Linked DNA regions of Homo sapiens: all the other regions are linked to region 4. Evidence: fine-mapped expression QTL. A gene starts in region 4. Each other region holds a variant in brackets. All regions are shown on one strand. Distances are from middle to middle. Region 1 overlaps FBLN5 (fibulin 5). Region 2 overlaps FBLN5 (fibulin 5). Region 3 overlaps TC2N (tandem C2 domains, nuclear). Region 4 holds the start of TC2N (tandem C2 domains, nuclear). Region 5 has its middle 43 kb from the start of CATSPERB.

Evidence for each region. PIP is the estimated chance that this variant, and not a neighbour inherited with it, causes the effect. A credible set is the group of variants that fine-mapping cannot tell apart.
Region 1: its variant is the best candidate, but not a certain one, in a credible set for the expression of TC2N in whole blood (INTERVAL, PIP 0.73).
Region 2: its variant is the best candidate, but not a certain one, in a credible set for the expression of TC2N in whole blood (TOPMed, PIP 0.78).
Region 3: its variant is the best candidate, but not a certain one, in a credible set for the expression of TC2N in monocytes after Pam3CSK4 (Quach 2016, PIP 0.88).
Region 5: its variant is the best candidate, but not a certain one, in a credible set for the expression of TC2N in whole blood (INTERVAL, PIP 0.81).

What each region holds. Positions count from the first base shown.
Region 1 is chr14:91,918,427-91,924,493 of GRCh38, forward strand. All of the region lies in intron 4 of FBLN5 (fibulin 5), which reads right to left. Among named protein-coding and RNA genes, the nearest start is that of FBLN5, 26 kb to the right of the region's middle. The variant C/T (reference allele first, on the strand shown) is at 4,123.
Region 2 is chr14:91,887,579-91,892,855 of GRCh38, forward strand. FBLN5 (fibulin 5) reads right to left here. Exons shown (of 11, transcript NM_006329.4): 6 at 3,643-3,759. Among named protein-coding and RNA genes, the nearest start is that of TC2N, 23 kb to the left of the region's middle. The variant A/G (reference allele first, on the strand shown) is at 3,024.
Region 3 is chr14:91,806,481-91,813,033 of GRCh38, forward strand. It overlaps TC2N (tandem C2 domains, nuclear), which reads right to left. Exons shown (of 12, transcript NM_001128596.3): 3 at 5,832-6,065. Among named protein-coding and RNA genes, the nearest start is that of TC2N, 58 kb to the right of the region's middle. The variant C/A (reference allele first, on the strand shown) is at 2,897.
Region 4 is chr14:91,865,216-91,870,215 of GRCh38, forward strand. TC2N (tandem C2 domains, nuclear) reads right to left here and starts at 2,321. Exons shown (of 12, transcript NM_001128596.3): 1 at 2,047-2,321. It overlaps FBLN5 (fibulin 5), which reads right to left. Exons shown (of 11, transcript NM_006329.4): 11 at 4,196-5,000. RefSeq lists an enhancer at 2,487-2,536.
Region 5 is chr14:91,772,924-91,778,202 of GRCh38, forward strand. No RefSeq gene overlaps it. Among named protein-coding and RNA genes, the nearest start is that of CATSPERB, 43 kb to the left of the region's middle. The variant A/G (reference allele first, on the strand shown) is at 2,738.

The sequences.
Region 1 (6,067 bases), 54 kb after region 4:
TCCATAGAGCTGAGCCAAAAGAATGCCATTATTTAAGATATGATTGAAGAGTCTCTCCAAGACTGGCCAAAAGAGGAATTCGATTTGAACTCTGGGGGCTTAAGAATGCTGAGCACCCAGTTTGTAGATTCTTCTGTTGACCTACTGGGGCCAAACAAGGATGGAAGGATGGAAAGAGCATCTTTTCTTTATAAATCCAGTAGCTTGACTTTGTCTACGAGTGCACAAAATCTAAGGAAAGGCATGTTGCTGTTGCTGTTTTCTAACAACCTCATCTTCCTGTTTATCCAGCACTTATTACCCAACTTTCTTGGACAGCTGACCTATCAACAAGCCAGCAAACATTATTGACCCTGTTCTATCTGCAAGACAGGAGATAGGGGATATGAAAGAGACATAAAGATAACAGGACACGAAGCTTTAATGAGTAAGTGGCACAAGCACATTCCTAAGTCTAAGGTAGATGGTGAGAAATGTCCCAACAGAGGCACAAGCACAGTGTTTTGGGAACTCAGAGAAGAGGAGGTTCCAATGGGCTTGGGATGAGATCAGTAAAGATCTAAGAAGGCCTCTGGGAAGAAATCACAGATTAAGGTCATTAAGGATAAGAAAAAAGAATGGCAGCCGGGCACTGTGGCTCATGCGTGTAATCCCAGCACTTTGGGAGGCCAAGATGGGTGGATCACTTGAGCCCAGGAGTTCGAGGTCAGCCAGGCCAACATGGTGAAACCCTGCCTCTAGTAAAAATACAAAAATTAGCTGGGCATGGTGGCATGCACCTGTAATCCCAGCTACTTGGGTGGCTGAGGCAGGAAAATGATGTGAACTTGGGAGGTAGAGGTTGCAGTCAGCCGAGATCACACCACTGAACTCTAACCTGGGTGACAGAGCAAGACTCTGTCTCAAAAAAAAGAAAAAAAAAAAGAAAAGAAAAGAAAAGAAAAGAAAAGAAAAGAAAGAAAGAAAGGAAGGAAGGAAGGAAGGAAGGAAGGAAGGAAGGAAGGAAGGATTACCAGGGGTCTCTGACCTCAAAAGGGTCCCCACTGGAGGAAGAGGGCTGTGTCCTGTGTTATAGGGTGAATCGTGTCCCTCCAAAATTCATATATTCAAGTCCTAACCCCCAGTACCTCAGAATGTGACTGCAATTGGGGACAGGGTCTTCAAAGAGGTAATTCAGTTAAAATGAGCCCGTTATAGCGGGCCCTACTCCAAAATGTCTAGTGTCCTCCTAAGAAGAGGAAACTGAGACACAAACACCCACAGAGGAAAGACAAAGTCAAGTAAAGGAAAGGAAAGACACAGGGCCAGCTATAAGCCAATTAGAAAGACAAGGAACAGATCCTTCCCTTGCAGCCCTCAAAAGGAGCCAACTCTGCCAACATTGTGATCCCAGACTTCTGGCCAGCAGAACGAGGAGACAATACATTTCTGTTGTTTAAGCTGCCCAGTCTGTGGTACTCTGTTATGGCCACCTTAGCAAACTAGTACATTGTGTGGGCTTTCCCCCTGGCCCTGAGCACCTCCCAAGCTTCCAGAGGGAAGTAGACTGCCTTGTCCTTCTCCCTCCCCTGTCTGGTTTCAGAGTTCTTGTTGACTAGAACTTATTAGCGTGCGTGTGGCTCTTGGGGCTTGACTTGGAGTCCCACACACTCTTCCCCACGGTCAGTAGGCTGTGCTGGAATGCAATCCTGGCAAGCCTTCCCTCCTCCTCAGAGTCAAAAGCCAAGTTGCACTATCTCCTGTTGTCTTAATGACTCTATTTTATTAACCCATTTGTGGCTTGTCTGCCTGCTAATGCACCAGGGTCTCCTGCCCCATATTTTCTGTCTTTGGAAAGAGATGATGCTAGCAGTCAAATTCATTCAATGTACAACTATTTATTGAGCTTGAATATGGAAAGAATAGGGCTGTATGATTTACAAAGAGGACTGGTCACTTACTATCCCCAGTGTCTCGAAATGAATGAATTATCTAAACGAATCTTAAAGATCATCCTTCAACCACGGAGAAGTGACTTGCTCAAGGTCATTCAGCTGCTGAATCTGATCTCTTTGCACAACTCATGATTTTTGGAGATTAAGAAACCAGAGACTTTGGGCTTTATTCAGCGCTGCCAATGGCCTGCCAGGTGATCTTGGACAAATCCTGTCATATCACATACCTATCCTCCAGATTTCTCAACCAAACTATAAATGTCCCTCCTTGGTAAAGACTTCCTCAACCCCCTTGGGCAGAATCAGCTGTTCCCACGATTCTCAGTCCATAGCAGCCTTGTGGTGGTTTATGCAGGAGTTGCCAACCCTCCTCCTGGCAAGCCTCCAACCCACATACTCCATTGCCTGTGGCCCCCAATGGTAGCACGAAGTATGGACCAGGTCAGCCCAAGCCTACCCTCAGCACTCCCTTGGCCAAAGCAATATCTTCAGGGGATCTATCATTAGAACTGGTCTTCAACTCCTCTTTGTCAGGGAAGATAGATAACATTTCATGGTTAAAACCCAACTCCAATCTGGCAAAATTTCAACTTTGTTCTTCTGAAGCCAAAGGCTAGTAGGCCTGAGACACAGAGGGTTCTGAAAGTACCACATTGGGAATTCTACGAGGTGTTCTATGCAAGCCAGTCACGACATTTTAATTCTCTTACCCAGATGTCCTGCGGCTTCGTTGGAATTCTGAACCCAGAAAGTAAAATCCGTCACCTGGGATTTTATGAAAATTATCCATGTAATCTTTACCCAAAATTAATAATGACCCTTAGAAAAGGCTCAAGCATGAAAAAGTTAAAGAAAAAGGTAGTAAAGCAGAGAAGAGCTGAGACCAAGTAGCTCCCAGAGTTTCTGCCAATGCTTGTCCTTCTTCCCTCTCAGGTGCAAGACGATTGATTATGAAGCAAGAGGTTCCAGCTGAGCCTTCAGCCAATAGCCAGCTAACAGGTACTTAGCAAGCACCAACTATGGGCCAGGCAGTGGGGATGCAGCAGGTTACAAGGCAACGTTTCTTCCCCTCTTGAAGTTTACAGCTAAGGGATGGGAAAATCAACAAACAAATACATAAAAAGCCACCAATCAGTGGCTCTCAAAGTGCAGCCCCCGGGCCAGCAGCGTCAGCATCACTCAGAAGAAAAGACCCCACCCCAGACCTACTGAGTCAGAAACTCGGCAGCAATCTGTGTTTGAAGGCCTCCGGTGGATTTAATGCACGCTGAAGACTGTGCTGGAAAATGATAAGGCTGTGATTGGGAGTAACTGCGGTGTAATTTCAGACAAGGCAGCCTGAGTAGGACTCTCTAAGGGGTGCCATCTGAACTGAGCTGAAGCCAGAGAGGAGAATGAGCCCGCAATGTGAAGAGCCAGGAGAGAGTTCCAAATAGAAGGAAGAGAAAGTGTGAAGGCCCTGAGGTCCAGAAGGGCCTGGTATATTTGGGGTAGAGAAAGGAGCTGGCATGGTGCCTATGACCAACCAGGGCACGTCGTGGGATGGCCTAAAAGGGCCTAAAGCTGGCGGGCCCACATGCTGGTCAGCCTAAATCACAAGCAAACTCTGGGATGTGGGACAGTCATGGAGCCCTTCCACATATTCTCTAAAATGAAGGGGCAGACAGGCGCGGTGGCCTGTAGTCCCAGCACTTTGGGAGGCCAAGGCGGGCGGATCACCTGAGGTCAGGAATTTGAACACGGCCAACATGGCAAAACCCCATTTCTACTAAAAATACAAAAATTAGCTGGGCCTGGTGGCAGGTGCCTGTAATCCCAGTTACTCAGGAGGCTGAGGCATGAGAATCGCTTGAACCCAGGAGGCGGAAATTGCAGTGAGCCGAGATCGCACCACTGCACTCCAGCCTGGGTGACAGAGCAAGACTCTGTCTCAAAAATAATAATAATAATAAAGTAAATAAATAAATAAATAAATAAATAAATAAATAAATAAATAAAATGAAGGGAAGAACATTCCTAGGCCTGCCTTCCTCCCTGGGCTATTTTGAGAATTCCATGAGCTGGTGGACACGAAAGCATTTGGAAAAGCGAGAAGCAGTGTTCCAGTGGGAATTACTACAATGAAAGGACTCATGGCAGTAACCGCAGGACCCAGCCTCCATGGGGAGAAGTGGAGACCACAACAGAC[C/T]ACAGGCCAGTGCCACCTGGCCCCCAGCCACTGTCTGCTCTCTGGAGAGAAATGAGATTGAGACAATCCTGGAAAAAGGATCTGTTGAGGAGGTCTGAGGTCTGAGGTGGGATTTTCCAGAGACGTCTGATGGTGGGATCGCTTACATCTCTACCTTGTTGGTCAATCTGGGAGGATTCTTGGCTTCCTAAGGAGCTTGTGTTTTGCTCCAGCTGCTTGCAAACTTCCCCCAGGAATTATAAAGGCAGTGTCAGATTTCTCACAGGACCAGGCCAGGCCCTATCATCACAGTGAGAGCCAATTTCATCCATCCACTGATGCCCCTTTTTCAGGGGTCTCGGCAGAGGGCTCATCCCTGTTTTAAGCCTAAAGGAGACTTTGACCAGGACCCTGAGAACATGGAGGTGATGTAATTATGAGGTGACCCAGTAATTAGCCCCTACAGCTTAGACTACATGCAAAATCAATGCCTCAAATGAGAAGATACCATCTCCGAAAGCTGCCTGTCTCCAGAAGCCACCCTTCACCTGGTTGTCATAAGCATCTTTGCATCCTGAGTGGTCAAGGCTGGAGGAAGCCTCACAGATAATGGCCCAGCCCCTCTCATGCAGATGTGAACTGAAGCCCCAGAAAGAGAAGGAACTGGAGCACAACCACCCAATGAGCTTGTGGCAGTGCTAAGACTAGGCTAAGCAGAAATCTCCAAATAGGCTTGTAAACATTTCACTCCCCTGCTCAAAAACCAGTGTTCACAGAATAAAGCCCAAGTCAACTGCATGGAATTCAAGGCCCCACAATCTGGTGGGGAATCTTGAGTGCCAACCTTCTAAGCCTCATCTCTTATTCTGTGCCTGCCCTGCCCACAACATGTGTCCATGCTGCAGCCACACTGGGTGTCATAAGTGTGCAGGTGACCGGTTGACTCATGACCAAGACTGCTCAACATGCAGTGAACTTTCTTGTCTCCATGTCTCTGCCCATGCTGTTCCCTAACCCTGACTGCCCTTCCTCGTCTCTGACATGGAAATCCTATTCAATCCTGCAAAGACTTGCTAAAGGCCACCATATGCATTCACATTCCTCGTGGGCACTCCCATAGCACCTGGGACATATTGCTCTCATCAGTCACATCTGACACTGGCTCATGAAGAGAATCTGATGAGTTATGTACACCCCCCTCCAAAACCCCCACTCACACCCACTCAGCAGAGAGATCCTGAGGGCAGGGACAGCATCTCGTTCATCCTTAGACCCTCCTAGCCCTTGGCAGTGTCTGACACAGAAAAGTGATCAGTCAATATTGTTTAATCAAATGGACGCACAGATATGCAACCCTGTCTTTAGGAAAGCTTCTGTGACCACTCCAGCCAGAGCCAACAAAGTGTCCCATACCTACGTTCGTTGCCATCCCATTTCACTGGGCTACATAAAATTATTTGGGTTTCATATTTCCTGCCAAACCACCCGACTCCCGCCAAGAGGCTGTGAACTCGCCAGGGGGTGATGATATCTGATAAATTATGCCTAGTGTTCCATTATTGGAACGCTAAGCATGTGGGAGTTATTTATATTCTCCTGTTCAAGGTCATCACCAAGGTCTGATTGCAAAAATTTTAAAAATTGCAACATCAGGCATAAATGGGTTAATCTTTACATGCACAGCTCAGACCTCAACACATAAATGGTAAATGGATAAATGAATTCCATCAGTGGTCATAAGTTAACCTATGTAGAAACTGTACCTAATATATAATCCATTTCTCTTTCTCATTTGAATCCCACATATATAATTCACTCATGTAGCTTTTCTGCTTATTTAACAAATATTTATCAGGCACTAGAAAAATACTATGGTGAGACCGCGTGTGGTGGCTCACGCCTGTAATCCCAACACTTTGGGAGGCAGAGGTGGGCGGATTGCCTGAGCTCAGGAGTTTGAGACCAG
Region 2 (5,277 bases), 23 kb after region 4:
CACATATACACCTGCTGGTAAGTCTATGCTCCAACGCACCCCCCCAACCAGGAATTTCCAGGCAATACCTGCTCCTTCCATCACCGGTTGCATTCCATCAGTGAACACCCCTCACCCTCACTGACTTGGAAGTTTCAGGTTAACAAATAACCATGATGATTCTAATAATATATTTATTATGCATAAATAACTTTGCTCATTAGGGAAGGATCCTGCACTCACTTGATCCTTACAACGAGGACCATTGGCCCACTTTAGAGGTTAAGTAGGTTAAGGAGAAGACCACCAAGGGACACAAGGACTAATGGGAAATCCATTATCTTGAGTGTGGTGGTGGTGGTTTCATGCGGGTACACGTATGTCAAAATTAATAAAATCATGGTGCAGTTTATTATACACTGACTATGCATCAATAAGATTGTTTAAGCATTTTTGAAGGACCAGGCATAGTGGCTCATGCCTGTAATCCCAGCACTTTGGGAGGCTGAGGCAGGTGGATCGCTTGAGCCCAGGAGTTTGAGACCAACCTGGGCAACATAGTGGGACCCCATCTCTTCAAAAAATTTAAAAATTAGCCAGGTGATGTGGCACACGCCTGAGGTCCCAGCTACCCGGGAGGCTGAGGAGGGAGAATCACTTGAGCCTGGGAGATTGAGGCTGCAGTGAGCTGAGATCATGCTACTGTACTCCAGCCTGGGTGACAGAGTGAGACCCTGTCTCAAAAAAAAATAAAATAAAATTATAGGCTGGGTGCAGTGGCTCACACCTGCAATCCCAGCACTTTGGGAGGCCAAGGCAGGTGGATTACCTGAGATCAGGCATTCGAGACCAGCCTGACCAACATGGTGAAGTCCCGTCTCTACTAAAAAAATACAAAAAAATTAGCCAGGCATGGTAACAGGTGCCTGTAATCACAGCTACTTGGGAGGCTGAGACAAGGGAATCGCTTGAACCCCAGAGGCAGAGGTTGCAGTGAGCTGAGATCACGCCACTGCACTCCAGCCTGGTTGACAGAGCTAGACTCTGTCTCAAAAAAAAAAAAAAAATACATATATATATATATACACACACACACAGACACACACACATATACATATAATTGTTTTTGAAGATTGAGAGGTGTACCCAAGTCCACCAGCTAACAAGGACACACAGTGGGAACTGGAACATGAGTCAGGGGTTTTTCCACAAAAACCAAGATTCATTCTGCACAGCTCATCGTGCGGGGAGGGCAGGGAAGAGTCTCTTTCCCACTGGCATTGGTTGACCCATTGTAAGCACCATCCCACAATGCTCCATACACCAATGGCCAAAGTTCCAACTGAGAGATTTTCTATCCTCTTCCCAAGTCCATGTAAACCTCTTAGGCCTCTGAAAAGAGATGTCAGTGTTTTCAGAGCTAAAAGCCTTCACGGTGAGCAGACTGAGAGGCTTTTCTTACAGGGGAGGCTAATCCCATGGCCACAAAGTTCCTGCCTCCTAGCATCTCTGGAGCTCTCAGGGAGAAAACAAATAAATGAACAGCTGTAGAGAGAGGGTCTAGCAAGACACTGGCCCCCACCAGTGCCCGTGGGAGGTTGGGGTTTCCCCACCGGGGACAGGAGGGGGTAGGAAAATGTCCACTGTGCTAAGCCACTGAGTGCAAGTTCAGACAGGACAGTGCCGGCAAGTGTTAGGGCTGGTGGCCTCAGCCTCTGGCCAGGCGCTGGCCACTCGGAGGTGAATGAACTCATTCCACCCCCTCACCGCTCTCAGCTGCTTCTGAAGAGCAGGGCGACCAAAATGATTCTGCCCCCCTGGGGTTCTCACTGCCCTTTCCTGCCAGCCCTTTCCAAATGCCCTTCTGAATCTGCTGAGGGCACACAGGGCCCCACTCCAACCTGTTGGACAAGAAGTCTGGGCCCCTGGTTTTACTCTCAGATCTGCTACCACGTGGCTGTGTGACTTTGGCCAAGTTGCTTAACCTTTTTGAGCCTTTATTTCCTCAGTGAAGCAGAGCCACAAACACCTGCCTGCTGACCTCAAGAGGCTATTTATTATTTGGGTTCAGTGAGATGAACAGACGTGACAATGCTCTAGCGTGTACAGCACTCTTCCACACACGAAGAGTCAGGATTGCAAAAGCTCACCGGAGTATGCGACGCCCTGTGCTGCCCATGGGCCCTGCTGATGCAGCATCCCAGTGGCTGAGTGCCCATACCCAGGCCTGGGTGCCGGGCCTGCTGCTTTATTATGCTGTGGACTTGGCACTGCCAGGTGTATTATCTGCTCTTTGTCACACACCTGTCCCTCAGAGGCCTGAAAGACGCAGGCACCTTTTGGCTTGGGCATGGCTATGCCTCAGGAGGTACTGGGGGCACGGTGCCAGCCTGTGGCTGGCACCTCCAATCCCAGGCCTTGGCACAGAGAAGCCTGCATCTGCCCTAAGCTGCTTATCACAGCAGCAAGGGAGCCAGGCGCCCCCTCCTGCTCCAGTGGGAAGGAAGGGCCCTTGTTTATCCGCTTCCTCAACCTCCTGGCCTGGTGTCTACTCTCAGAAGAAAATGACCTCTTTTGGCGTGAGGAACACAGTCCAGAATTCTTGGAACAATTAGCAGAACAAGCTTTGGAGGAGAGACTTAGAAAGAATCCAGGGTCAAACTCTTTAACACTGATGCCTTCCTATTTACCGATGATTTAGATACAATTAAAGTAAAGGAGACCTAATAGCCTCCAAACTCAATGGCCAGGAGCCTGCCAGCCAGAACTCCAAGGGTGAATGAAACAAGGAAATGGGCCCTGCAAAGCCTGAGGTCTCCAGACAAAGACCTCATTCTGCGTCTGCAGCACTGCCTCCAACTCCAACCTGGGCCAAGCAGCTGCCAGGGGCTGGAGGCCTGGGCCGGGAGCTGGAATTTGAGGGGGAAGTCGGGGGCCAAAGCAGGATTTGCGCTAATTCCTTGGGTCTTAAGTCCCCCATTCACTTCCTGAGCAGAAGAAACCTTCAGATGGAAACCACAATAGGCATGCAACTTGTTTTTCTT[A/G]CTTATCAGTATTTCAAATGATCATGTGAAAACCACAAAATGCCTTTGTTTCAGTCTGGTTTTGTGGGGGCACGCTGAGTAGCAGGGGATGTTACCACCACCACCAGACCCTTTGCTGAGGAACAGGCCATCCTGGCACAGGTTGGAGGGAAAAGTATAGCAAGAGACCTCAGAATCGCCCACGACACCCCTGCCTAGCATGGATGTGTTTATTTTATGATTCTTGGAGGGCCAGGGACCCTGACCAACCCTCCTCAGGCCTCAGGAACTGAACTTAGGCTACAGGACATGCAACCAAATTTCTGATTAGGCAAGAAAGCCAGCAAGGCTACTTCTGGATAGCAGACACAGAAAAGAAGCGAATCCATGAAACTGTACACTCCCAGCCAGTGGAGGATTGGGGTCCTACCCTCAGCCATATTCAGAGCACTTTTTGAGATGCTTCGCATAGCAAGGTTCAGGTCTCACGTTTCTGTAGTAATGGGGATGGGCGGGCAGTGGCAAGGAATGGGAATATACTGTAGCAGCAGTATTTCCCACAAACATAAGCTGCCAGGTGCTGAAGAAGGCTGCAGCTAGTGTCTCACATCATGTCCAAGTTATCATGCACGTCACATACCTTGGCAAGACCTTCCATCCTCATTGAGGGTAAAACCAGGGTTGCATGTACAAGAATAGGATCCAGGAACATTCGCACAGAGCTGCTGGCAGTAACCATAGCGACATTCATCAATGTCTGGAAACAGAAATGCAAGCAAAGTGAGACAGGTCTCCTCACTCAATGATGCCCCCACTAGCATGGCATGATTGCCTTGCTCTTCCCAAACAGGATCATGAACGGAAGCAAATGGGAACAGGAGCCAAGACAGTGCCTACTGAGTGTCACGGATGGTGATGCTGTCTCGAATACAAGGCTCAATCTCCCCACAATCTTTCCCCTCCTCGACCCATCTCAGTCCCATAAATACCTGAACCTATCCTAAAAGTTGCAGAAGAAATTTCTGCTTCGATTGGGATGTTGGGCAAAATGAGCTCTCCAATTTTACCCAGCTCTAAGATTCAACACTAAGGTTTATCCAAGATGGACTCTCCAATTTTTCCCAGCTCTAAGATTTGAGATTACCCAGCTCTTAAGATTTATCCAATGTTAAGATTCAACTCAAAGATTCCATATAGAGGCTCCACTGCCCAGGATTCTTCTTAACACGTAAGAAGAATCCATAGCATCACTCCAATAGGCTCCTTGCCAGCTCCATGAACAATGAATATGTCCAGCTGTCAGGAACAAGAGCCAGTTAGGCTGGGATGAGCTGGGCAGCATGACCCTGGAGACCCATGAATCCAGTAACATGAGGGCACTGGAATTCACCCTGAATCTCCTCCTTGCACCAGAGTGAACATAAAACTCTGGATAAACACATCTCTTCCAAGCCACAGCTGGCCTTGCCAGGGAAAGCGGCGGCACTGTGGGTGAATGGATCCTTTGAGCAGAGCTGGGCAATGTGACCTCCCTGTAATATGTATCCATCAATGGGGAGCCTGATGTCATTGGGAAAGCACTTCTCAACACCCCAAGCTGATGTGATAATGGGCTGGAGAATTCATTCCTGTGGGGTAAGGGTAGTGAATGAAATCACCGGCCTCCTGGCAGAGTCTGAGATGGCACCAATACAGGCTCCTGCTGTGACCAGTTGATCTGACTGTAGCTGGAACTGGTCCTTATCCCCACCTCCCCCAATCTAACCAGGTTTCCTCCCTGGTCCCCCTGTTCCTTTGGAACCAGGGGCCATCCAGGACTCTGGAAGCCGGCTTAGAGCCTCAGTCCTTGTGCCTGGTTTCTACCTACTGCCAGGAAGGACTCCACCTCCCAGATCCATCTTGATCCCTTACCTATTGTTCAGCCCTTCTCAGATTCTGTGCCCTGTCCTGTGATTCTGTTTTGTCTCTAAGTCCCGGCTACTTCTAACCTGGCCACTGCACTGCCCCTGAGTGCAGAGCAGCTCTTGCATAGAGGGCCCATTGGCTGTACAGTGGCTGGCCCTGACTTCTTCCCAGAGTGCAGTTGGGCACATCACCAAGGCCAGGCAGGCAGCAGGGGCTGGAGAGGGTACCCTTCACTACGGGTACCTTGGAAAAAAGGCAGCCCCCCTGACCCCTCATTTTTCTGCAAAAGCAGCATCTTCAGTGGTACACAGAACAGACAGTGTGTGGCTATGGAACTTGCATTTTGAAAGGGAAAGGTGAGTTTAGCCAG
Region 3 (6,553 bases), 58 kb before region 4:
TCTCAGGTAGAGATGAGGAACTTGTTGGGAACTGCAGTAAAAGTGGCTCTTGCTATGTTTTAGCAAAGACACTGGTGTCATTTTGCCCCTGCTGTAGAGATTTCCGAAACTTTGAACTTGAGGGAGATGATTTAGGGTATCTGGTGGAAGAAATTTCTAAGCAGCAAAGCATTCAAGAGGTGACCTGGCTGCTGTTAAAAGCATTCAGTTTTAAAAGAGAGCATAAAAGTTCGAAAAATTTGCAGACTGTCAATGCAATAGAAAAAAAAAACACATTTTCTGAGGAGAAATTCAAGCCACCTGCAGAAATTTGCATAGGTGACAAGGAGCCAAATGTTAATCATCAAGACAATGGGAAAATGTCTTCAGGCTATGTCAGAGACCTTTGCAGCAAGCCCTCCCATCACAGGCCCAGAGGTCCAGGAGGAAAAAGTGGTTTCATGGGCCAGGCCCAGGGCCCCCCTGTTGTGTGCAGCCTAGGGACTTGGTGCCCTGCATCCCAGTTGCTCTAGCAATGGCTAAAGGGGCCAAGGTACAGCTTGGGCCATGGCTTCAGAGGGTGGAAGCCCCAAGTCTTGGCAGCTTCCACATGGTTGAGCCTGCAGGTGCATAGAAGTCACAAGAATTGAGGTTTGGGAACCTCCTCCTAGATTTCAGAGGATGTAAGGAAATGCCTGGATGTCCAGGCAAACGTTTGCTGCAGAGGTGGGGCCCTCATGGAGAACCTCTGCTAGGGCAGTATGGAAGGGAAATGTGGAGTTGAAGCCCCCACAGAGTCTCCACTGGGGCACTGCCTAGTAGAGCTGTGAGAAGAAGGCCACCATCCTCCAGACCCCAGAATGGTAGATCCACCAACAGTTTGCATTGTGCACCTGGAAAAGCCACAGATACTCAACACCAGCCCGTGAAAGCAGCTAGGAGGGAAGCTGTACCTTGCAAAGCCACAGGGGTGGAGCTGCCCAAGACCATGGTAACCCACCTCTTGCATTAGCATGACCTGGATGCGAGACATGGAGTCAAAGGTTATCATTCTGGAGCTTTAAGATTTGACTGCCCTGCTGGATTGTGGACTTGCATGGGGCCCTTAGCCCCTTCATTTCAGCCAATTTATCCCATTTGGAATGGGTGTATTTATCCAATGTCTATACTCCTATTGTATCTAGGAAGTAATTAACTTTTGATTTTGCAGGCTCATAGGCGGAAGGGACTTGCTTTGTCTCAGATGAGACTTTGAATTGTGGACTTTTGAGTTCATGCTGAAATGAGTTAAGACTTTGGGGGACTGTTGGGAAGGCATAATTGGTTTTGAAATGTGAGGATGTGAGACTTGGGAGGGGCCAGGGGCAGAATGGTATGGTTTGGCTGTGTCCCCACCCAAATCTCATCTTGAATTGTAGCTCCCCTAATTCCCACATGTTGTGGGAGACACCTGGTAGGAGATAATTGAATCATAGGGGCAGTTTCTCCCATACTGTTCTTGTGATAGTGAATAAGTCTCAGATCTGATGGTTTTATAAGGGGTTTCCCCTTTTGCTTGGCTCTCATTGTCTCTTACCTGCTGCCATGTAAGACATGCCTTTCACCTTCTGCCATGATTGTCAGGCCTTCCCAGCCACATGGAACTGTGATTCCATTAAACCTCTTTTTCATCATAAATTACCCAGTCTCAGGTATGTATTCATCAGCAGCGTGAGAACAGACTAATACAAGGTGTATCATCTTTTAACTTTTATACCATATTTTTACTGTACTGAATACTGTATTTAGTATAGTATACAGCATAGTAACATATTGTATAGGTTTGTAGCCTAGGAGAAATATGGTATCCATATAGCCTAAGTGTTTAGTAGGCTACACCATCTAGGTTTGTGTAAGTGCCTCTACACTGTCCATGCAATTATAAGATAGCTTAACAACAACATTTCTCAGAACATATCGCCATTGTTAAATGATTCCTGACTGTGCTTGCAACACAATTTTAGTCATTATTGATAGCAGTCTGCTCTATTCACTCAAAATCTTCTCTTTTCTCAACCCATCATTCACGTGCATACATACATACACATATTTAACTTCTTTAATTAGGTACCACCTTACTTTCTTGACTCTAATAAAAGTAATTTTCTCTTTAATATATACAAATCAGATGGTTTTACCACTTCTTCAGTGAACCTATAATTTAGGAGTTAACCAATTTCTTCCTCATTCAACTCAAAAAGCAATGTTTTCTAGTGAGCACAATGTCAAGAACATAAGAAAAACTATCACATATTTCCAGGTGGATATTTCTTACCTTTTTTCTGATTATGAAAATAATAGAGTAAAAACTCAAAATTATTTAAGAATAGAAAATTCATTAAAAAAATTACAGTATGTCCATATGAAGAAATACTATGTATTCATCAAAAAGCAACAAATATGAAATGTTCACAACATATTATGTGGATGAAACAACTTACAAGGCTGCATGGTTTAATCCCAATGTTGTTAATAAGTATGAAAAAAAAAGAGAAAGATCAATTGATTGGGTATTCTGTAAGCCAGAACTTTTTAAAACTATTTTTGAGAAACACTATTGATATGCGCAAAGTAAGATGATAGGCCAGGCACTAGGTTCATCTTTTCTTTTCTCTAAAAAATTAAAATTGGGCCAGGCATGGTAGCTCACGTCTGTAATCCCAGCAATTTGGGAGCCCAAGGTGGGTGGAATGCTTGAGAATAGGAGTTCAAGACCAGCCTGGCCAACATGATGAAACCCCATCTCTATAAATACAAAAACTAGCTGGGTGTGGTGGTGTGCACCTGTAGTCCTAGTTACTCAGGAGGCTGAGGCATGAGAATTGTTTGAACACAGGAGATGGAGGCTGCAGTAAGCCAAAACCATGCCACTGCACTC[C/A]AGCCTGGGCAACAGAGTGAGACTCTGTCTCAAAAAAACAAATTTTAATTTAAAATTTAAAAAATCACTCCTACCAGACCCAACTCTCTTGTAGGTAACAATAAACTCTAGACCAAAACTAAAACAAAGCAAGAAAATAAAAACCCTGAAGGCAATGAAGAGTAAAGAAAAGTAATACAGATCTGGACAGGAGTTGATTCTGGGGAAAAAGGTAATGGCACAAAGTGAGTTATCTGTTTTTAATGACTTTTAGCCTGAGTACACATCAAAGTTGGCAACACGCAGGGTATATAAAACCCCAATAGAAAACTCACAGTCTTTCTAGCCTGAAGAACCACAGGGTACAGTTCAAGAAAATCAGAGCTGCAGGAAAGTAAGGTGGGAATCCTGGAAAGGAGAGATTCCCAAATTCTGTAAATAAAGCCTTTTCAAATATCTGTCTCATCTCTGAACTACCACCCAAGAGCTGCCACCCAAGACAAAATCTGTAGTTTAAGTCCAACCAGTTTACTTGTCTGGTAGGAGGGAGGAAGAAAGAAAGGAAGGAAGGGAAGGAAGGTGTGTTAGTCTGTTTGTGCCACTATAAAGGAATATCTGAGGATGGGTAATTTATAAAGAAAAGCAGTTTCATTTGCTTGCTGTTTTGTAGTGTGTACAGGAAGCATGGTGCCAGCATCTGCTTCTAATCAGGGACTCAGGAAGCTTACAATCATGGCAGAAGGCAAAAAGAGAACAGGCACATCACACGGCAACAGCAGGAGCAAGAGATGGGCAGTGGAGGTGCCAGGCTCTTTTAAACAACCAGATCTCACAGGAACTCAGAGCTAGAACTCACTTATCACCAAGGAGATGGTGCTAAGCCATACATGAGGGATCTGCCCCCATGATCCAAACACCTCCCACCAGGCCCCACCTCCAACATTGGGAATCACATGAATTTGGCGGGGCCAAACATCCAAACCATATCAGGAGGGAAAGGAGAAAGGGAAGGAGGAAGGGAGGGATGAAAGAAGAGAAGTAGGAAGGGAGGATGGGAGAAAGGGAGGAAAGAAGGAACCTTTTCAGAAGAATGTAACTGAATCTAGAGTCTCCACAACATAACATTCAATATTTTTGATATTGATATCAAGAATACAACCCCAAATTACTCCATATACAAAGAAACAGGAAAATGTGATCTATTTTCAAGAAAAAAGACAATCCACAGAATCCAAACCTAGATGATCAAGATGCTGAAATCACCAGATAAAGATTTTAAAGCTTAAAAACATAAAAGAAAATAGGTTTGCAATACTGTAAAAATAAGAAATTGCAGTAGAGGAAATCTATAACAAAGAACCAAATGTAAACTCTAGAACTAAAAAATGCAATGTCTAAAATAAAAAATTCATGAATAGGCTTAACAGCAGGCTAAAGATAACAGACGAGACAGTGAACTTGAAAAAAAGATCAATATTATTGAATCTAAAGAACAGAGAAAAAAAGATACTTGAAAAAAAAAAGTCTCAGAGACCCATAGAACAATATCAAAAGGTTCAACATAGGTATAATCGGAATCCCAGAAGCAGAAAAGAGAGGGGATAAGACAAAAAATATTTGGACAAATATTGTAGATCTTGATAGAGATTTGGATTACACTGACATATACTTTTGTCAATATTCAACAAATATACACTTAAAATTCAACAAATACACACAAAATTCTACAAATACTCACTTGGGCAGCTCACTGTGTGTAAAATTTATGCCAAAAGAAGAAAACTGTAAAGAGATCGTTGAACCCAGTAAATGATATATATGTTTAAGTGTTTGCAAGGAAATATATTGGTGTCTTCAATTTACTCTGAAATTCATTCCTCTCCAAAAAGTGGATTAATAATGGATAGAAGAATGGATAGGTAGACAGATATTTGCTAAAGCAAGTATAGTAAGTAATCTTAATGGCAGAATTTATGTGGTGGACATACAGGTCTTCACTATTAAGTTTTTTTTTTATTTTCCTGTATGTTTGAAATTTTTCTAATAAAATTTTGAGGGTAAAAAAGCTATTGTGACTTACAGTGTTTCAATGGACTAATACAAATTGTTTTTTAAAAAAACAAGACAAGAGCTACATGTTGTTTCATCTTCTCTCTAATAATTTGGCTTCTACATCAGCCAAATTCTGCCAATGGATCTACCTCATTCAAGTAACTATTTAGACTGGGAAGTACAACCTGGTAGAAGAAAGAAGAGAAGGAAAAGTGATTACTAACCAAATATTAGAAATTAATAAATAAGAAACATGTTTTCTACATTTACTAACTCCTTTACTTTTTCATTCTAGACATGTGACGGATAACTGAGGTATTCTAATTACAGTTATCCCTCAGTATATGTGGGGGATTGGTTCCAGCCCTCTATGGATACCAAAATCCATGGATGCTCAAGTCCCTTATATAAATGGTGTAGTATTTGCACATAACCTATGCACATCCTCCCATATGCTTTAAATCATCTCTTGATTACTTATAATACCTAACGCAATGTAAATGCTACTGAGATAGTTGTCATATTGTATTGTTCAGGGAAAAAATGACAAGAAAAAAGTCTGCACATGTTCAGTACAGATGCAATCATTCTTTTTTTTTTTCTGAATATTTTTGAGGTGCAGTTGGTTAAATCCACAGATGTGGAACCCAAAGATATGGAGGGCCAATTACATATTATTTCTTGAAAAAAGGCCAATTCTACATACAAATTATTGTATTATGATCAGATTTCAAAATGGGACCTTTCAAAACTACTGTACATTAAGTTCTTCTACAGAAAGAGCAAAATATAAAAAGTAAAATAAAAAAATTTTATATGAATTTTGTATTAAAAATATAAAAGTAAAATAATAGCACTTAAATGCTACATATCGATTTTTAAATACTGCTATTTTATTGTTTACCTTCAAGTTCTTCCAGATGTGAAGGAGTTTCTTGTGTCCTGGGTTGAATGTAAGATAACTTAAACTTGGGCACCACAAATGGTACTTCTTTGCCATCAGATGGTAATTTGGAAAGCAAATAATCCTCAGTACAGCCAAGCTGAGGCTTTACAGAAACAGAAGTCAATGGAGGTACAGAGATAGTAGCATTTTGACTATTTGGGACTGCTGCTTTAAAATCTCTTTCCACAGAAACTGCATATAAAAGAAAAAAAAAGTCACAAATATGAATATAGGTTACATATAATAATCTAAACCTAGCATACTTTGATATTTATTTAACCATTTTAGAAGAAATTCCTGACACATAAACTACTCTTGGGTCTTACCAAACACTTCTGGAATCTACATTAATTTTGTCCAGACGATATTTGAGCAATTAATACACTACTGTTAAAGTGCATTAACTTATCATAATGGTAAAAGCAGCTTTAAAGAGTCTTATTCCCAAAAGAATTCATAGATGGAAAACAATTTTATTTTGTAGTCAGTTATATAGTGCTTTCAAGTAAAAATCTAGTCATTTAAAACTACTGTCAACAAAAGCAATTCTTTTGTTGCTGGCAGCTACCCCAGTCGTAGCTTCTATGACCCATTTTATTCATTCTTTAGAATCATATGTGATTCCTAAGCTACATGATTTAAGATGGGAGGTAAGTTATTCTTTATATATATATAATGCT
Region 4 (5,000 bases):
TTAATGATTTATTTCTCTGATGGCTGCTGGCTAAGATTCATTATTAAGAACCATTAGTAAGTCAAACATTCTAACTGGAGGCTTTCATCCCCGCAAAAGCTACCAAAGTGATAAATTTTGCCTCTGTGCACTCCTTTGTCTTGGAGCCTCTTGGTTTTTTTTTTTTTTTTTTTTTAAAAAAACATCTTTTAGCTATGTTCAGGGATTCCAACAAAGATATCAGCCATTTGTTAAGTAACAGGACTAAGAAATTTGAAAACAAAAATATCAGCACAAGGAACAATCTGTATATTTGTTTGTAGTTTATAAGCATTGGCCAATTCCAAAATAATGAAGAGATTTGCTAAGTGCTCACGTTTTTTTTCAGATAAAAAAATATTGCATTTAAAGTAAACACAAATTGTATCAAAAAGAAAAAGTTTATCTAGCATTTATTAGTGTTTCCTTTCAAAATACTTAATAATTCTAAGCAGAGGCAACTTATTCTAAATTTCAAACACATGTCTATAAATTTTCATAAGAATTTTTCTTGTATAAAACAGATGTCTTAATAATTTTTAAAATCTAACTAAAATAATTTTGTGGACCCTGCTACTGCACCTACCACATTATATTCCAGTTTTGTCGTGTATGCTGCATAAACCCCTGGCTAAAGGTGTTATTAAAAAGTTATTAAAGTTTTAGATTAACTTTTTATAAAGTTTTAATAACTTTTAAAGTTATTAAAAAGTTATTAAAGGTGTTATTAAAAAGGTGTTATTATAAAGTTATCGGTGGACTGTCTATCCTGTTCATGTCTCTGAATCCAGCAACCGGCTTAACCAAAGTGGATTCTTAACCAAAGTATGTGATCCTCTCAAGACAAAGACCTTTTACAAACAATATTTCATCTGGCAAGAGGGGAGTAGAGGAGAGTTCCTTTGTCAAGTCTTCTCTCTGTGGGTGACCCCGTTGGCTCAGAATGAACAACTTGGGCACATTACAGTAACCACCCAGGCCACAAAAATGCGTTGAAACCACTGAAAATGAAATAATCAGACCTACTTAAATGTTTTTACCATCTGGGCAAATAACACCCCAAGGGCCAAGACTTACCTAAGAAAGTGTCTGAAGTATGTTACCCAAGCCTGAGAGGCAACAGGTAGGTGGATTTTGTGCCAATTAGAAAGTGTTATGATTGGCAAACCACTGCAAAACTCTGAAATTGCAGTGAAATGGAAATGCTGGCTGTCATCCCCAAAGTACATTTCAAGGAATCACAAAACTTCAGAATTAGAAGCAATTATTTAGGATGAACGTTTTCACCCACATGAAAGTTGGAAGATGAGGTGGTAACACGAGAGCTTTTGCAGGCGTCCCTACTCTTAATCCTGCGCCCCTTCCACCTTGGTACCCTTCATTCTTCAGGACCTGATGGAGTGGTACAAAGCAGAGGTCACTTGACAAGCTCAGCCCAGCTCCTGGATGGGGCAAAGCTGACAAGGAATAGGCACAGGGAGCCTGGAGATCTCAGGGTCCAGGAAACAGCCTGCCCCATTAGAACTGCACAGCAGAGCACAGCACTGGGATCAGAGAGCAGGCTCATCCCCAGTCTTGTACAAAAAATAACATTTGATGATTCCCAAGGGGTAGGTAAAGCAAGTAGCATTTGGGGTTCCAGCAGCCTCTAGAACTGTTTCCCAAATGTTTGGAGCTTGACTTTGCAGTATACACTTTGCCCTGGACTGTTTTTCTCTTAATTTTTAGGCCCAAGTGTATTTTAAGGTAAATGGATCCCACATGCCTCTGGTGCATTTACACTGAACCCATCAGACCACATTTTGAAAGCGCAATTTGAGGTCCAAGAAGCCCTTGGAGGCTGCTTTTATGAGCCTGAGTTTCTTTTCTTAGAAGCAGGAAGCCACATTTTGACATGAACAAATAAAACACAAACCTTAAAGACTCGGATCTGGTTCCAAATGTGGCACCTCTGAAACCAGTGGGTCCTCAAATCATCAAGACAGAAAGCTTCCCAGTTTTCTTTTTGAGAAGTTCATGGAGACTTACCCCTGTGTTCTGTTGAGCCCAGAGGCAGTGGTTCGGAGGCGCTCGGTGCAAAGCTCACGTAAACCTTCAGCATTTCTGATTCCATCCTTCTTCCCAGCCCCTGAGTCTCCCTACACAGCAGGGACCCAGGCTCACTGCTGCCTTCTGGCCTTTGCTTTTCGGAGCCGAGCTGAGTGAGTCCCAAGGGAATCACCCTCTGTTTTATAAGCTTTGAAACCAGAGCATCCTGAGCCATTTGGTGCTGATGTGATTGCTAACACCACTTGACCCTGACTGAAGAACCACAACTAGGCATGGTTTAGATGTGCTTAGTTAGAGAAAAAAATAACCACAGCCAACAGCAAAGTGAGGTGTGTGGTGTGGGTGTGAGAAATGCTCTTGGGGTGAGGAGGGAGGACTTGCAGCTTCTTGGATGCTACAGGGCGTGGAACATGCTGTTTCCTTCCACTGAAGGCCTAAGATACTACTAAGTGGAACAGGAGAATTCCCTGGCCCCCTCACAGGATGTGCAACAGGGGTGTGGCTCTCTCTTCAGCCACCCCAAGCTAAAACCCCTTATGGGAAGGGGAGCACGCAGACAGGCAGGTGCAGGAACCAGGGTGAGCACTTTTGGGCCCCAGCCCCATGACAGCATCCCGGGGTCGGTGTCTGTGACTTCCAAAGCCCGAGTAGGCACTGAAACAGTGCAGTCTTTCAGCCTTGCCATCCGTGGACAGCTTAAGCGTTAACCAGCTTAGTGGACCCTCTCCCTTTTTGCCAGGGCAGAGGGCCAGTGTGACAGTTTCCTGTATCCCGAGCTCTTGTCCAGCATCCCGGAGGGATCAGGTCACACATGGATTTGCAGGATGAATGCAGGGGTTTTATTGAGTGGTGGAGGTGGCTCTAAGTAGGATGGATGGGGAGCTGGACAGGGGATGGAGTGGGAAGATGATCTTCCCCTGGAGTTTGGCCATCCAGTGGCCAGTTTTCAGATCGTCTCCAGTCGAATTCCTCCCAATGTTCCTTCTCTTCTCTCCTTCTTTGCCGTGCTTTTCTGCCATTCATGTCTGCTCATCTTCTTGTCTCCCCGTCTGCTTCTGGAGCCTGGAGCCTGGGGTTCAGGGTTTATATGGGTACAGGATAGGGGACATGGCAGGCCAAAAGGCAACTTTTTAGGGATGAAAACAGGAATGGCTGTCCTCATTTAGGGCCATGGGTACCCAGGCTTGAGGGTGGGGCCTTTGCCAGGGAACCACCCTCTTCTACCCAGTATTTCCCTGTCTCCTGTCCATATCACAAGGATCTGTGGAATGCCTACTAAGACTAGGGGTCCAGGACACAACTCCTGATAGGCACTGTGGGGGTCCTTAATGAATACCTCACCAACAGGTAGGATGGGAGCACCCTCAGATGGATCTGTAGACTCCACCTCAGCTATCAGGGAGTGCACTTTTTTCCTGAAGCCTTGGGTTGATTCCTGGGATGGCACATAAAGACAGCCATCCCAACCTGTTCTCCTGTGACTTGCAATGTTGACTCTCTTGGCCCCTGCACAGGGTTCTAAGACTTGAAGGATGTCCAGAGGCCCTGACCAGGAAAAGAATAATGTATCCTACAATGAGCAGAAAAGACATTGAGGGCAAGGCAGCTAGGGCTCCAGCCCCATCTGTCCACCTCTCTTTCTAGGGTTTATAACAATACATTCTCAACTCTGGCTACATAGTCAAGTTTTCAAAAATCCTGATGGCCGGGCCCTACCTAAGCCCAATGACATCAGAGTGTCTGGGGGCATGTCCCGGGGAATCAATCTTTCCTCCAAAGTTCTACTGGTTATCCGTCTATGCAGCCAGGGTTGAAGGCCACTGGTTTAAAGTAACTTGAATACATTCCTGTTCTGCAGGAGCACCGGAAATAATCTACGTAAGAGAAGGATTGTTGGTTGTTTTCTAATCAGATGAAACAGGACTCAGGGATGATGCCTCCCCCTAACTTCCCCACGACCCCTATTTCTCTGCCCCACCGCCCCCCTCCCATCAATTTGCCAGAGTCACAGATAATGCCCTAGCTCTCTGGAGAGCTTTCTAAGCCAGCGCACAATAAACAGGTTTAAACAGAACTAGAACCCCAAAGGCTGACTCGTCTATGATGTCAAAATGAACCAAACACAAGCTCTCTTCAAATATTTAATCAGTTTGGAGACCTCTGCATTCCAATCCAATTGGGTAAAAATTCTAAAGAAAGCAAGATTAAGGGGTCCTCAAAGAAAACACTGGGCTAAAATGGAGAGGAGACTGGGTTTGGGAAGACAGAACATAGCATGTGTCTGAAGGCCTTTCGAAGGAATTCTACGACATATTTTTTAAAAATACTCAAAATGAACAAGACAGAATTAAACCGTTATACAAATTTAAGGACAACTGAAACTTCTTTTATGGTTGAAAATACCAGGCATGGTTTTGAAACACATTCTCTAAAAACCCTTCGATCCTGCTGTGGTTTGTTTACATAGCCTTCTCTGTGTACGCAAAAAGCAAACTAGCTACTCCCAGGGTTCCCCGCCAGCTCCCGGGTCTTTGCAAAGCAGTAACACAGTGAGAGAAGGAGTGGAAGAGGTGAAGAAGTGACAGCAAGCTGTTCACAGTCTTTGAACATAGACTCAGACCCCCGCAAACCTAATCTATTTTCTTTGAAAATAGTGGAAATAAACTGAAGGCCTTGAAAATTCACCAACAATCTTCTATCAGGGGAGCAATGATAATACTTTTTGATAACTGTGTCATAGGAACTGGGGGTGGCAAGTCCTGCAGGGTGACAGGTCTGCAATAGTACAGGTGAGAGTCAGGAAGTCGGGGCTGACTCTTCGGGGAAACGTTCAGCAGGAAATGCCTAACGTCTGTGTCGCTCTCATTCTCTCTGTTATTTCCTCTCTTCTCCTGTCCCTTGGTGCCAATGAGAGGCAGCGTCGGAGGCTCCAG
Region 5 (5,279 bases), 92 kb before region 4:
TTTTTCACCTTCTTTATCTGCAGACCTATTATCTGTCCTTCCTGGATAAGGAGAGGTAGAGGAAACTGTCCCGAGTACTGAGATGTACATGGGATGAGGCCTGCTTCTCTTACAGCCTCTTCCCTGAATCCATTTCCTAAATTGTATCAGGAAGGGTCTCCAAAATTCTCATTCTCTCCCTCCAGGAGTAGAACTATCATCTAACCGATTTTCTACGCTCGTCTTCTTTCCTACAGAAGTCTTATAAATCCTGTTTAGGCCAGTAGACAACAACTACAGTACTTGTTTATGTAGGGTCACTTAAACATGTTAGTTACATCTTATAAGAAAATTTCAAAGCTGGACACAATCTAAGTATTGTTCCTACTTTATACAGAAATCAAATTTAACTCATTCCCTGCAAAAAATAAATGTTTTAAATAAATAAATATAATTTTTGTTCTTAGTAATGATATACATTAAGCTGCTAACATGTAATGATAAGGCAAAATCGGATAAAGATCTCAGCAATCTACTAAATTTAGCATTATGTGTTATAAACACTTTAAAATTTCAGAAGTTTTTTGTAAGCTTGATAGTATGAGTTAGATATGAAGCTATTATATTTCTTTTCTCTGATTAAGAAATGTACTAATGAATTTTAAAGTAAATATGGTAATAATGTATTATACAGCATTATCTCTTTCAATAAGAAGATATTGGCCTTAACTACCACTTTACTGAGCCATAAAACCTAACTCTATGTGTTCATTCATTTTTTTGTTGGTTCACTGTTAAATCCCTAACACTCAAAACATTGCCTATCGGTTAAATGTGTAAATGAACAAACATTGACTATGTACCTCTTATAGGCCAGATACTGTACTAGGTTCAGGAATGCAGCAATAAACAAGACCCTGCTTTCATGGAAATTACAGTCTAGGAGAGACAACTACGTAAGTTAACTATTTAACCATAATTCTGATAAAAGCTATAAAGAAAAAGCATAAAGTATATGAAAATAAGACCTAATATTGCTTGAAAAATCAAAAGAGACTTTTCTGAGGAACAGATATTTAAGCTGGCACCTTCAAAAAGAGAATAGGATTTAGTAAAGGGAAGAGTAAAGAGAGAAACTATTCCACATAGGTGAAACAGGATGTGTGAAGATCCAGAGGAAGCTAGGTGTGTATTGTCTGTCTTCCAAGAACTGAAAACAGATCAGTGAGATTAAAGAGGAGAATTGTTAAAAATAAGGCTGGAGTGGAAGGCAGAGCTCAGATTATACAGGGATATTGTAAATTTTTAAAACTTCCTATTTTCTTGATGCCTCAACATTCCCACAAACAGGCTATGAACACTATGTCTGGGCAATCAGGTGCACCAGTGTGAGAAGGCTGGTTCCTGCCACAAGTTCCCCTTTTTGTTATTCTGAGTGTGATCTAGTGACATTCAAACACTCCAATGAAACACTCTCATGCTTTTTGCTTATATACTGTACCCTGACCACCAACAAAGGCCCTTGTCCATAGGTCCTTCCCCCGACCCTCTCTCTCTCTGCTCCCCACCTGCTTGGGTGAGCTCACTCCCTGGGAGTTCCTCCCACATGCCCCCTGCATGGCATGCCATACCTCCCTCTTCTAGGACCTGCCAATATAATAAATCTCCTTCATTTTCATATGCCTCTCCATGGTGTTATTATTACATGTCCACATCTGACCGATCATCAAAAAAACAAACAAACAAACAAAACCCAACCCATTTTAAGTAACATAATTATTCCTTACAACACAACAGGAGAAAGGGGATCAGGATATGTCACCTCAAAGTATGCCACTTTGGCATAAAGATTTTGAGCTGAAAGCAACTGAGAGTCAACAGATGTAAGAAGAGTTCTTTGCCGTCCCCTTAACTGCCTAAAAGCAGGGCATAAATTATGCTTTGTGAAGGTGTTCTCCATACTCTGTGGACCAGGAAGAGGAGTGACTTATCACCGGAGATGGAGAGTCAACACCGAGATGAGTTTGCACAAACAGACCTAACTAAAATAACCCTTATCCTCCATTAGTTCCCCCATGTATTTCCTAGTCACTTCCCCACAATTTATCTCTTAAAGTCCAAACCTCCTTTCCTTTATTAAAAGGGTATATAAACTCCTAATCTAATTACCTCTTTGAGTTTCACTTTTCTGTGAATACTTATGCATGTAAACATTAATAAAAATGGTGTCTTTTCTCCTGTTAATGTCATTTGTTAGTTTGATTCACAGACCCCCATTCATTGAATATAAGAGGGTAGAGGAAAAGTGGGTCATCCCCTACAAGGGCCTTGTAGGCTGTGTTAAGGATTTTGGACTTCATACTAAGAGCACCGAGAACCAAGGTGTGACAATCAGATTATAAGGAAAGTACAGTACTACAGGTGGGATATGATTTTGCCTTTGATTAGAGAAGTTGAAGTGGAGATGGAGAAGTGGGTGCATTCAAGATCTATTTAGGATATATATATTTCTGAACAGGGTGACTTGAGTATGGGAGATAAGAGAAGAGTTCCAAGGTGTGATATTGATATAACATAGATTTGGTCTTTGTCGTTGACTCCTGGCACAGAGCTCCTAAAACCCTTAGAAGGCAGCTATGCTCACCACTGTACCATCAACACACCTAAGACCCTTGGAATTTCCTAAGCAATAAGTGTGATGAGGCATCTTTTCTTATATTTGGTTTTTGTCCCTGGCTCCTGAAATAGCTCCAGAGCG[A/G]TGAAGGTGAAAGTAGCATCTTGTGTCATTCCTAACAAGCCCCTTTCAAACACACCCCAGTTTATGTTAATGAGGTGACTTTTGGAAAGCCGTCAAGAATGAGGGTCTTGTTGCCAGGAAAACAAAAATATAGTTAAGAGGGTTGGAATTTTCAGGTCCATCTCCCAAGCCCCCTCAACCTCTGGGGAGGAGAGAGTGGGTAGAGACTGAGTTCAACCACCAATGGCTAATGACTTAATCAACCATGCCTATGTAATGACATCTTCATAAAAATCTTAACTGAAGTCCAGAGGGCTTATTGTTGGTAAGCATATCGAAGAGCCTGCAAGGTGGCACTCCCCGAGTGGGCAGGGAACTTCCACATCCCTCCCCACTGGCTTGCCCCATGCATCTCTTCCATTTGGCTGTTCCTGATTTGAATCCTTTATAAAAAACTGACATATGTACATAAACTGTTTCCCTGAGTTCTGTGAACAATTTTAGCAAATTATCAAACCTGAGGTGTCATGAGAAGCTCCAATTTGTAGTCAAGTAAGACCAAAGTTGTGGGCAGCCTGGAGACCTGCCACTTATGATTGGCATAGGAAGTGGGGGGCAGTCTGTGGAACTGGGCCCTTAATTTGTGGGGTCTGTGCTAACTCTGGGTAGTGTTGGAATTAAGGTAAATTATACAACACCCAGTTGGTGTCCACAGGGAATTAAAGAATTGCTTGGTGGGAAAAGCCCACACATTTGGTGTCAGAAGTATTGTAAGAATAAAGAAACAGCTTTTCTTGTTTTAATTTCCCCCCCCCCCCCCAGCACAACCAGAATACAGAAAGAGAAATAGTTTTTCCATTTACATGTGTTAGTAACTGGTAGAAAATGATTCCAACAAATTTCTAAATAATTATTAGAATTTAAGTGTAATTAACTCAATGAATAGGTTTCTGGGATGACCAACTAGGTGGATGACAGTGCCTTTTACTCAGATGGGGAAAAGTGAAGATCACACTTGTGGTAGGAATGGGAAATCAAAAGTTTGATTTAGAACACGTTTAAGAAAAGATGTCCACATTAGCTATATGACAGTGGAACTCATAGCAAGATTTGGGTAGAGATGTAAATTAGACAGTAGATAGCATTTCAAGCCATGGAAATAGATGACGTTGCCCTGGAAAACAGTGTGGAATGACAAGAAAAGGTGGCCTATGACTGAGTCCTAAAGAACTTCTACTTTTTAAAGTCAGGTGCATGAAGATGAGCCGAACAGAGAAGAACAGACTAGGAAGGTTGTTAAAAAAATAAGCAGAGCATAATGACATGAAAGCCAGAGGAAGAGACGGTTTCAAGGAGAGAGGCAGGGAGAGACAGAGAGAGAAAGAGAGAGAGAGAAAGCTATTGTTAAGAAAGTTGATGAGAATAAAGGAAAAAAAATAGCTGAAAAGCATTTATTAAGACTTTAACATGAACTTTGGTGGAGTGGTGAGGATGGAAGATTGAAGAGAATGGACTAAGGACAGAGCGGTTAGAAATTATCTATAAAGAGGAGAACAGATAAGGCAGAATCTAGAACAGGAGAGGAAGTCTAGGAATATTTTTTTAAGAAAGAAACCACAGAGAAAGGTGACCTAACGGATGCTATGCTGAGAAACCAACCTTCCTATTCATTGAGTTAGTTACACTTAAATTCTAATAATTACTCAAGAATTTGTTGGGATTGTAGACTACCAATTACTAACACTTGTTGAGCAAGCAGACATGAAGGCTATGCTTGGGAACAGTCGGGTGGAAGAAGGAAAGTGAGGAAAGAAACTCCTGTGAGAATGAAAAGAGCTTCTGGTGCTGAGAATCTTCACTGGCTATGCATAGACTCACCCGTAGCAGTCCAACCCAGGGAAAGCTTTGGGGACCTCGGAAGACACACCTCTATGGGGAGCATGCTGCATTGGCTCCTGCTTTATGTAACGTTTCTTAGTCCATTCAGGCTGATATAACAAAATACCATAAACTAGGTAGCTTACAATGAACATTTATTCCTCACAGTTCTGGAGGTTGGGAAGTCTAATATCAAGATGCCGGCAGATTTGGTTTTGGGTAAAGGCTTGCTTCCTCATAGAAAGTCATCTGTTCACTGTAACCTTAGCTGGTAGAAGGGGCAAGGGATTTCTTTGGGTCTTTTTTATAAAGGCACTAATCCCTTAACAGCCTAATTACCAATGCCTTAACGACCTAATCTTTTCCCAAAGGTCCCACCTCCTAATACTATCATCTTTGGGGTTAGCATTTCAACATATGAATTTTGGGGGAACATAAACATTCAGTCCATCGGTGTTTACACGGGTTCCTTCATCAATACAAAAACCTAACCCCCAAAACTGTATCCGTAGGGTTCTTTGCATCAAACACATCACCAACCAATTTTGATACAGCCACACACCAGAGGTTTCAAAGATGAAACAAAGAATCCAGTAGAGTGAGTGGGAATGGTTCAAAAATAGGAGAAAATGGGCATAATAAATGGAACGAAATCCCAGAGAATGCGGAGAGGACTGGGTTCAGA